Homo sapiens: one gene and its partners. The protein of the gene in region 3 purifies or fractionates together with the protein of the main gene of each other region. This does not show direct contact. Each region holds a gene or a part of one and is shown on either strand. Other genes may lie near its edges. The genes, in order: HACD3, KDELR2 and SERINC3.

Region 1 (3,539 bases), on a different chromosome or scaffold from region 3:
AGTGCTTTTGGTATCTCTTGAGATTCTAACTTTTAAAGAGCAACCATTAATGTGTAAAATGATTCCTATTATTCAAGGTTTTTTTTTAATGAAAATAAAATATTTGATTTTCTAGAAAATGGTTTCACTATGAAACTAAAGGTCGTTTGCTTTTGGTCTGTCTTATCACTTTAATATAATTTCAACTTTCTAAGTGGCATAGATTCATAAATCATGAGGTTTCCTTATTTCTGACACTGATTAGGCCTCATTGCCTAAGCAAGGTTCTGGCTAGGTAATCCTGACAGATCACCGATCCGATTCCAAAGTTAATTATGGTTCCAATTTATCAGCTAGCTTTATGACTTTGGGCAACTTCTCAAGGCTTTGTCTGCATCATCAGTGTTTTTCATTTGCACCACCTTCCATGTAACTCTCAGGCTTCAACCAGAGCAACTGTTTTTGGTTTAACATGCTGAACTGCTACATAATATTTTGCCTGAACAAAGGTCTTTATCACTAACAGAGAACCATTAGACTAAATTATCTTTAAGCACAGTCATTAGAATTTTGATTGTAAATGTTTTAATAGAAATACACAATCTTTCACTTTCTCAGACAGCAATAAAGGGGTTTGTAACAATCACTAAGAATACAGAATTTTGCCACGAGGATGCAGCATAATCTACTGCAAAGCTGATCTGCCCAATTACACGTAGTCAGCTGCAAGAATATCAGAAATCAATACAAACAAGTATTGACAGGTGTTACAGACATGCAAAATATCCTTCAATGCAACGAATTTTTAAGAAATCAGCTAGCCTATATTAATCAGATGTTTTAGGTCAAACCAAGTTTCCATCTTGGGCTCAGTGAAATAGTATTAACTCATTGAGTCTCCTTTCCCCCAGGAATGTTGGGAATGGCAGAACAGAAAGAGCTATCACTCCTTAAATTCTTTTATGCAAGTGTTACTCCAACACTTATTTTACTTGGTTTACTTGGAATGTATGAGAGGAAACTGATGTTTTTTACAATGGCCAACTGTATGTCTAAATTTTCAGTTCTCCTTTTTGTGAGTTTCCTGCCAGAAATCCTTGTTAAAGGATCAGCGGGTGTTCACCCCGAAGTTCTTGCTGTTTTCAGTGTCCTACTGCAGACAGGTTTAAAAAGCCAACTGAACAGCAGCAGAATGAAGTATTTTTGAGGTCTATTCAAAAATGTACAGTCCCACCACTCACTAGAACAAGTACACAAGTAAATGGACTCAGCCAGTGCAGGAGATGGAAGGCTGCCATTTTTTATGTTTGTGCACAGCCTTACAGTTTGGAGGTGTGTTTGGCCTACTCTAATATTTCTAGTTTGTCAAAGGCTGTACACTGTTACTGCCAGTTTGACCTACATACTGTGTTCCCTTTGGATCCCTGCTACCATTTGGACCTCGTGTGTGTGTGTGTGTATGTGTGTTTGTGTGTGTGTGGTTTGGTTTGGTTTGAGACAGGGTCTTGCACTGTCACCCCAGCTGCAGTGCAGTGGCACAATCTCGGCTCACTGCAGCCTTGACCTCCTGAGCTCAGGATCCTCCCATCTCAGCTTCTTGAGTAGCTGGGACAACAGGTGTGTGCCATCACACCCAGCTAATTTTTTTATTTTTTGTAGAGATAGGGGTCTCACTACGTTGCCCAAGCTGGTCTTGAACTCCTGGCTTCAAGCGATGCTCCCACCTAGGTGTCCCAAAGTGCTGGGATTACAGGTGTGAGCCACATTCCTGGCTGAGTTTGGAACTTGTAATCTCATTGTTTTCTAAATAATGTTTCATTTTTCTTCAGTGTTGAAAATAGTTGATTTACTTAAGAATGGCATGATCATGATGTTCCAAGATTCTGATTAGTTTCTTTCAAAGCATTCTGCGCCTCTTCAATGCCCACACTGCTGAGCACTATAATAATAGATGTTGTTAGGCCAAAGGATGTCAGATGTAAAGTATGTTCTCTAGCCCCACTCTTAGAAATGTTTTATCAATGACTCAGTCCACTTGATTTTCAAAAAGTCAATGCCATCCCATTAAACAAGTAACCCCTTAGGTACAGAATAATTAATTCCTGCCTGAGTCACTTTAACAGCCTTCTATAGAGTGACATAGTCTTGCTTTTTTTCACAAGCAATAGCTGAAAAGAACAAATCTCAACTGTAAGAACTGTCAGTACATTGTAGGGATAAAGCACTTTTTGAAAAAAAAATCTCTGGCATGTATTAGACAGACTGAACATGAGATAGGGTTGGGGTGGGCTGAGCCTTTTGGTGTCATTAACTGAATACACAAGAATGAACCTCTCATCAGATATCAGGAATCCATGTCATGCAAGTACTACAATAAGATAACAGTAAATTCAGGAATGTTACTGGGGAAAAGGAAGATAGCCTCACTGAGAATTTAATCATTTAACATTAAAAAAACTTTTACATTGGTTCAAGAAGGTAAAACTGTAAGAATCAGATTAGGCTCAAACTGGCAAGAAGCCATCTAAATCTTTCTTTTTAGTGGATCTTTTTCTTTTTTTGTCCATAGCGCCGTCTGCGCTGTTTATAAAGGTGACGAAAATTTATGTATAAACCTGAAAAAGAAAAGAGGTCAATTAGAAATTAGAGTCTTTGTCTATTTATAACCAGAAGCTCTTGTGGCAGGGACAGTATCTAGCTGTCGTCATATTCCACAGCAAAAAGCTTATTGCAGCGGCTCAGGAAGGAGTACAATTTAGAACAAATTAACAATACAATAGACACAAAGCAATTTTTCCCCAGTGGGTTTATTTATTTATTTATTGCGACAGGGTCTCATTCTGTCACCCAGGCTGGAGTGCAGTGGCACAATCTCAGCTCACTGCAACCTCCGCCTCCTGGGTTCAAGCAATCCTCCTGCCTCAGCCTCCTGAGTAGCTGGGATTACAGGCGTCCACCACCATGCCTGGCTAATTTTTTGTATTTTTAGTAGAGGTGGGGTTTCACCATGTTGGTCAGGCTAGTCTCAAACTCCTGACCTCAAATGATCTGCCCAGCTTGGCCTCCCAAAGTACTGGGATTACAGGCGTAAGCCACCACACCCAGCCTCCCAGTGAGTTTAAAACATTTTTTTCTCTTATAAAATTTTCAAACACGCAAAAGATTAAATCATTATACAGGGAACATCTAGATTTACTGCTTTTTACTATATTGGCTATATCACATCCCTATTCATCTATCCCTCCAGCCATCTCATTTTTTATGCACTTCAGTGTTAAGTTGCAGATATCAATACACCTCACCCCCCTAATTCTTCAGGTAGGTATAGTTCAATATTCTTTCTTTCTTTTACAGTAAAATTTACAATGAAATGCACAAATCTAAAGTGCAGAAACAACCTAATTTTTAATTCAAGCCTACTCAAGAACATGGCCAGGCGTGGTGGCTCACGACCGTAATCTCAGCACTTCGGGAGGCCAAGATGGGTGGATCACCTGAGGTCAGGAGTTTGAGACCAGCCTGGCCAACATTGTGACGCCCCATCTCTACTGAAAATACAA
Region 2 (3,434 bases), on a different chromosome or scaffold from region 3:
CAACGAGGCTCACGTGAAGTCCAGGGCCAGGGAGTACAAGTGAGGGAACCAAGCCTCAACACATGCCTGGGCCCAAAGCATGTGCTTTTCTTACTTAAGGGTTCCCATAAATCACTATGATCTCCATTAAAACCACTTCTCCACCTGCTCTTCTCTTAGCCAGGGCATAAGGCAACAGGGAAACTTCTTCAAAGTTTCTTTGTGATTGAACTGGACAGGGGAATAGATTGGTCTCTCTCTGTTAAGGAGCCAATGGATAGAAGCCTTTATTATTTTTAAGTTTTCATTTTTACTAGTTTTTTAAATGAGATGTGGTCTTGCTAGGTTGCCCAGGCTGGTCTGAAACTCCTGGCCTTAAGTGATCCTCCTGCCTTAGCCTCCCAAAGTACTGTGATTATAGGCATGAGCCACCAGGCCTGGCTGGAAAGCAGCTTTTCCTATATCCATTACTGGGCAAATATCTGAACTTTGCTTTATTTCTCATGATGCTTACATTGAAAAACACACAAACACCTCAATAAAAATATTAATTACCTGGTAACCTTTATTCGGGAAGTGAAAGTAACTGTGAAACAGTGCTTCATAAGGCGTGGCATACAAGGCCTTGGTTTCCAACGCCGGCGAGGATGAGGCCCAGTCCCACACTCCCTCGCAGGCACCCTTGCTAAGATGTCCTCCTGGGTGACCAAAACGGTGGTAACATAGCCAAGGTTACTTTTACTTGGGTAGGATGACTGCAGAAGGAATGGCTACACAGAGCTTCCAGACCTTTCCATGCGTTGTGCTCTCCAGAGGATGCGCCAGGTGTATCAGATTTGCATGCACAAAGACAGGTGTGCGCCCCACCCACCCTGGGCTGGGCAGCAAGAGGTCTGCTCACCTACTGCACCAGACTTCCTAGCCTCCTTCCACACTCCGAATCTTCAAGCAGGATGAAAAGAGACCACAGAAACTGAAGCAAGACTAGGATGCTGCAAAGAAAGATGCTCTGATACACAAAAGCCAAAACATAAGACAAGGAGGGAAGAGTAAAATGAGGGAGACAGACAGGAAGTTAAACTATGCAGTTACACTGCCGATTTAGAAAGATGTTAAGACACACACTAGATACAAATGAAACCCATCCTGCTCCCTTCCTCCAGAAGACGTTGTAATGCAGAAAGCCAAAATACTACATCCTTCTTGTAGTCAGCACTGTTAGTATTCAACACTTTAATATTTATGGTGTATCACATAAAAAACAAAGTCATATACTTTTGCATTAATCAAAAAATAGCAAATCCATATAATGGCAAAATCAGGAAAAAAATTCTAGTATTTCCACAAAATACATAATGTCTTACAGATGATTATGTGAACTTTAAATGTCTGCAGCCCTACAGAGCTTTTGTTGCCAATTGAAAAACAAAAAAATCCCAACACAGGATGTTCAAAAAGCCTAATTCATAAAAAGACAATTTATTCCATGTTTAATATAGTGTTTTTTAGGATGGTAACATAAGTCATGCAACAGCTCTGTAAAACAAAACAAAACAAGAAACTACGATGTCGGCTGCGGGTTAAATAAAAAGAAAACCACACATACAAAAAAGAATGTAAGGAATGGTTAGTGGTGCTGCCAATTAAAAAAAAAACTGTAATTAAATCATCTTACCACCCAAAAGTGATATGGAAAACTGTTTGAATCTGAGCATGGACATGGTTGTAGTCATCTTTTGGAATTATAAGTGAAAGTGATAGGTAACTCCTTGTGTTCCATTTCTCAGAGTAGATTGCTATATCCAAATGATCATGAACACCCCTCCCATCCCACACTCAGATGGAAAGCAGCCAGAACCCCTGCCACTGGATTCTTCAGCACCCTTGGGACAGTCTCCAACTGACACTTCCCAGCAGGGGAGGAGGGCAGGCACCTTTGGTGACTCTTCAGTGAGACTCCATCGACATTCAGAATCTTAAAATGTTGGTAATGAAAACCATGGACCTCCAAGTCATCCTTACCAACCTTAAATGTAGTGTTGTGACATCCAACGAAGGACTTCCACGTCACGTGGGAATAAATTTGAACAGATACATCCAATTGAACATAGTGTCTCAGATTTCAAACAAATACAGCTCATCTTTTGCCAAAAAATAAATATAGTGGAATGCAAGTTTGAGGGATGGAAGAATATATAATCTATCAACTGTCAAGGAGTACAATTTCATTGCAGACACAAAGACTTAAGAGTTTCAAAGAATTTTTTAAAATAAAAAAAAAATTTGCACTTATTCCTCACAAAATCTTCACTTTTGGAACTATCCCAATTGAAGCTACACACTGAATTTATTAATACAGCATTAAGTTTCTTTGTGTAAAAAAATCTTTGTACACAGTAATAAAAAAAGATAAGGCAAGATGCATTAAACAGAAACCTTCTGGCTCTTTTCCTCTGCGTTTTTACAGAGCCACTGATGACTATCTGCAACAAAAGAGTTAAGTTTCTGATTTTCCGTATCAAGCATCTTATGCCTTTGCTGTGGTAAGAATTCTGTCCGAGCACCCTGAAGGACAGATGCTGGTGATGGTCTTTGGCACTTATGCTGGCAAACTGAGCTTCTTTCCCTTGAGTACTAGAATTTCAAAGAGAAGAAAAGAAAACAAAAGGTTACTGATATTGACAAACTTAGCTTCCTTCTTCCCATTCCTAGAAGTCTCCCACACACAAGATTCTACATAGTAAGGTATAGGAAATAAGCAATTGTATTTTAAAAATACAAATTTGATTGAAAGTGCCACTAAATTCATAGTGGCTTTTTGTTATTATGACTTTCACCCTAATCAATATATAGTAAAATATAGCTTATGTAGGGAGGCCTATGAAATTCTGGGTACTATAACATAAAGGCCGGATGCAGTGGCTCATGCCTGTAATCCCAGTACTTTGGCAGGCCAGGGTGGGAGGATCCCTTGAAGCTAGGAGTTCAAGACCAGCCTGGGCAAAAAAAGTGAGAGCGACCCCATCTCTATAAAAAAAAAATTTTAAAAAGAACCAGGTGTGGTGGCATGCACCTGTAGTCCCAGCTACTCAGGAGGATGAGCAGGGAGGATCACTTGAGCCCAGGAGTTTGGGACTGCAGTGAGGAAGGATCACACCACTGCATTCTTGCAGCCTGAGTAACAGAGTGAGACCCTGTCTCTTTAAAAAGATAAAAAAAAAAAAAAACACAAAGGATGGCAGGGTGAGGTAGCTCACGCCTATACTTCCGGCACTGTGGGAGGCAGAGGTGGGCGGATCTCCTGAGGTCAGGAGTTCAAGACCAGCCTAGCCAACATGGTGAAACACCATCTCTAATAAAAATACAAAAATTAGGCTGGGCACAGTGGCTCATGCTTGTAATCCCAGCACTTGGGGAGGCTGAGGCAGGAGGATCACCTGAGGTCGGGAGTTCGA
Region 3 (4,435 bases):
AGATTCCCATATAACTTAAGAGTAAAAGCCGGGCAAGACGCGGTGGCTCACACCTGTAATCCAAGCACTCTGGGAGGCCGGCGGATCACGAGGTCAGGAGATTGAGACCATCCTGGCGTGAGCCACCATGCCTGGCCTTCAACTCACCAGGATTTTCTAATGTGATAGAAGATAAAAGAAAAATTGTACAGTAAACGATTATTTCATAAAACTTTGTCTCTATATGGGTGCATCAGATCACAGATCAACTATGTACAATCTTTCTTTAGGTCAAGGTCAGAATAATTAGAAAACCACTGCTCTCAAGAAAGCCCTTAAAAATGGAACACTCTTTTGATTTAGGACCAACAACCTTAAAATACATTCTGTTCCTAAGAAATAGTGGAATGAAGCCAGGCATGGTGTCACACACCTGTACTGGGAAGGCTGAGGTGGGAGGATCACTTGAATCCAGGAGTTCAAGGCTGCAGTGAGCTATGACTGAGCCACTGCACTCCAGCCTGGGTGACAGAGCAAAACTCTGTCCCCCTCCAAAAAAAAAAAAGAAAAATAGTAGAAAGAGCTGAAACAGAATCCTTGGTGTAATACTGTCAAATATATGTATGTTTGGTTCCCATTTCCTGGCATACAATTTCTAAAATCCTTGGAATAACCAGCGTCTTTTTGTATGCTAATGAGATGACTGGTGACTGGCAGCCCCTAGGTGGCTTCATGATGGGTGAGGGTCATAGTAGGAGGTTGGGACTTTTCAGTCTCACCCCTGACCCTCCAAGGAGGGGCTGAAGGTTAGGTCAGTAACCAAAAGCCAATGATTTAATGAATGCTGACTACATAATGAAGCCTGCATAAAAGCTCAGAAGGACAAAGTTCAGAAGAACTTTTGGCTGGGCATGGTGGCTCACACCCCAGGAGTTCGAGACCAGCCTGGCCAACATGGCGAAATCCCGTCTTTATTGAAAATACAAAAATTAGCTGGGCGTGGTGGCATACACTATAATCCCAGCTACTCCGGGAGGCTGAAACATGAGAATCCCTTGGAGGTTGAAGAGAGCCGAGATGGCGCCACTGCCCCAGACAGAGCATGGAAGCTCCAGACCCGTTCCCTCTACACCTTGTCTTACATATCACTTCATCTGTATCTTTAAAAATATATTAATAGTAGCCATAAAAAAAGAAGAAAATCATGTCCTTTGCAGCAACAAAGATGCAGCTGGAGGCCACTATCCCAAGTGAATTAATACAGAAACAGAAAACCAAATACAGCATATTCTCGCTTACAAGTGGGAGCTAAACACTGGGAACACAGACACGAAGATGGCAACAATAAACACTGGAGAGTCCAAGAGTGGGGAAGGACGGTGGGGGGATAGGGGTTGAAAAACTACCTGTTGGATACTGTGTTCACTGTTTGGGCAACGGAATCATTAGAAACCCAAACCTCACGATAAGGCAATATACCCATGTAACAAAACTGCATATGTACCCTCTGAATCTAAAATTAAAAATACATAAATACACAAAATAAAATACTTTTATAATAAACCAGTAAACATGTTTCCTTGAGTTTTGTGACCAAATTAATCAAAGCCAAGGAGGGAGGTCACGGGAACTTTGATTTATAGGTGGCCGGTCAGAAGCACAGGTAAAACAACCTGAGGCTTGCCATTGGCACAGAAAGTGGGCACAGTCTTGTGAGACTGAGCCCTCCACTTGTGTGATTTGATGCTATCTCCAAGTAGAGAGCTTCGGAATTGACTTGTAGGGCACCAAGTTGGCATCCCCTGCAGAGCTGACTGTTTGCCTGATGTTTGGGGGAAAATCCCCACACACCACACATCAGGTGTCAAAAGTGTGTTGTGAGTACAGCAGGAGAAACTGAGTGTGCTTTTTCTACACACTTGGTCAATTAAATCAGCTGGAGAATGAGGAATCAAGGAATCACGCTCCTCTGAAGTGGGTAAATGAGGGAACTCAGCATATTCTTTTATAGGCCCTATAATTTTCTCTTTAAAATGTTTACAGTTTACAAGGTGATTAAACCTTCACTTCACTGTCACAATCGTTCTCGAAGAGAGGAATGCTGGGGTGATTATCCTCGGATAAATGACTTACAGCAGTCCCAAAATATTCAGGCCCTGGTTTCCAATTTTGAATAACAATCCACAAGGGCTTCTTTCCCTTGCACCTGAACTGCAGACAAGCCTCCGCTAAAACCCCAGCTTTGCCACACACTCTGTAGTTTTGGCAAATCCCGTGCTAGGGGATAAAAATATTACTTGAGCCACCTAGAACTAAATGATGGCACCTTAAGAGGTGCTTCGGGAGGAACCGGAGCCCCTCGCTGGGAGCTGTCATTCCTTGGTCCCTCTCCAGCTCCAGAGGAACCTAGTCAGGAAGCCTCGCAGGGCGGAGCCATCCGAATTGTAAACAATGGCGGCCTAGCCTCTTCCGTTCCCCGAGGAACCCGGAGGGCGAGCCGCCTAAGCTGGACCTGAGGGTATCGCGGATTTGCGTCTGGGGCCCCGGAGACCCTCTGTAGCCCAGGGCCTGCTGACATCCCGAGAGCCTCTGGAGCCAAGGCCCGTGCAGCTCTGGTCTCGAGGCCTTTCCCCGCAAACCGCAGGTCCGGCGAGGACTCGGGACCCCGAACTCACCCAGCTGGCGAGGGAGAAGACACCCAGCACAGCCCCCATGGTGACGCCAGTGATGGAGGTGGCCGGTCCTGAGGCTGCTTTCTAACACGGTGGTAACTGCCAGCTGAGGTGACTCCCCAGAAACATGACGGTTTCTCAGGCCGGAAACGCAGCCTTCCACAGACGCACGGATGCGTCACGGCGTGGCCCCGCCCACCGTCCGCGACCGGAGCGGCAGAGGGGGGCGCCTGTCATTGGCTGAGGGGGAAGGTGGGGCTAAACCATCCTGGGGTTGCAGGAACTGTGAAGGTGTCATTCCTTACATCATTTGTATTCATTGTGCAAAGATCTGGAAGTTACAGAAGTGTACAGAGAGGCACAGTACGCTCAGAATTTATTCTCTAGTTAATAGGAGATCTGACAACATAAATGCACCGTGCCCCAATGTAATGAATACGATGAAGTAGTATGGGGGAATAGGCTTTCAATAAAGGTGTATTTAGTGCCTCCTATTGTAAGGGGAAAGTAATTTAGCTGGGCAGTAGTCTTGGAAGGCTTCTCTGAAGGATTTATTTTTTAATCTGCGAACTAAAGGATGAGTCCAAATTAACCTAGAAACGATGGAAATCGTATCCTAAAATGTGGGATGCACCCCATTTGGGAAAAATGAATGGCTCTAAGGGTGCATGAAGGACATTAAGCGATATTAAACAGCAGAGTGAGAACGTCCCATTTCAAACCAACAGGCTAGTTGTTTGAGGCCAGTATGGTATTTAACATTTTTCTAGTATTTATCTCCCTTTCTAACAGAGTAAAGCCTTCATTTTCCAGATCTCTCAAACAGGCAACCATGCCTGCAGTTTTAAAATATTGTTTTGTTTTGAGGTGTGTGTTAGCAATAACCTTTTCATTTCTTCCGAGCAATGCTGATTTCCCATTTAAGCAGTGATGTAAATATTCCTTTCAAAATACATGTCAAATTTGAGAGTTCACTTAAAGAAGAAAATGAAAACATTTTTTACTTACACATATAATAGTTTAGGTGGAATGTGGCAAACAATGATGATGTCCGGACAACAAGGTGTCACACTTCAATATCTTCTCCTGTGGTGTGTTAATCTTCCCTGATAGATAAAACTCTCTGGAAGGGGATTCATAATTGAATTCCTTCTGGATTGTCAGCCTTTAGTCTGATAAGGGAAATTCATGAAAAGCCCCTCTCTCCATGTGCTGTTCCCCAAGCAATCATCATACCAGTGTGGCATATTTGGGGATGTTATTTCCTGGATTCCTTGAAAATGTATTCCAAATTCATCTTTTACAGAAATGGAATGAGGCTCAAAGTTTGCCCAAGGCCATGAAAAGGGCTGATGAAAGAAGAAAGAGAACTACTCACATTTAATAATTCCTACCTCTCTTTTCCCAGATCCCTCTCCTCACCACACATACACAAATACCAGCTCAAGTCAAGTTGCTTCAGGACCACTGAACTTTCCAGGTAGTCCTTAACATTCTTGCTTCTTCCTGTCTGAGTATTGCTGGTCTGGACTTAAGAGAGCTGACTGTGATAAATTTTACAGATCGAATTCTACCAGAAACATACCTGTAGTCAAAAAGAATTAGGTTTATTTAGCTTGTTCAGAAAGGGAGAACACATATCAGAGAAAATATAAGGTGTCTTGGTAAGAGGTGACTGGGGAGAACTTATTTTAGGATTTGGGTTTATGCTGGGTAACTAAATCTAAGGAGAGTTTAAGGAGGAGGAGAACAGTTTTGGATTGGACACAGTCAAGGAGTAGAGG

What was found.
Region 1: the proteins of SERINC3 (region 3) and HACD3 purify together in Homo sapiens (affinity purification with mass spectrometry; one large-scale study listed by BioGRID and IntAct). This does not show direct contact.
Region 2: the proteins of SERINC3 (region 3) and KDELR2 purify together in Homo sapiens (affinity purification with mass spectrometry; one large-scale study listed by BioGRID and IntAct). This does not show direct contact.

Annotation. Positions count from the first base shown.
Region 1 is NC_000015.10:65,575,358-65,578,896, reverse strand, and holds the end of HACD3 (very-long-chain (3R)-3-hydroxyacyl-CoA dehydratase 3), read right to left. Parts: intron 2,595-3,539; coding exon 2,518-2,594; 3' UTR 548-2,517; downstream 1-547. UniProt on the Homo sapiens protein: Catalyzes the third of the four reactions of the long-chain fatty acids elongation cycle. This endoplasmic reticulum-bound enzymatic process, allows the addition of two carbons to the chain of long- and very long-chain fatty acids/VLCFAs per cycle.
Region 2 is NC_000007.14:6,460,563-6,463,996, forward strand, and holds the end of KDELR2 (ER lumen protein-retaining receptor 2), read right to left. Parts: intron 2,614-3,434; coding exon 2,579-2,613; coding exon of another isoform or gene 2,404-2,578; 3' UTR 527-2,403; downstream 1-526. UniProt on the Homo sapiens protein: Membrane receptor that binds the K-D-E-L sequence motif in the C-terminal part of endoplasmic reticulum resident proteins and maintains their localization in that compartment by participating to their vesicle-mediated recycling back from the Golgi.
Region 3 is NC_000020.11:44,519,259-44,523,693, forward strand, and holds the start of SERINC3 (serine incorporator 3), read right to left. Parts: upstream 2,813-4,435; 5' UTR 2,694-2,812; coding exon 2,655-2,693; intron 1-2,654.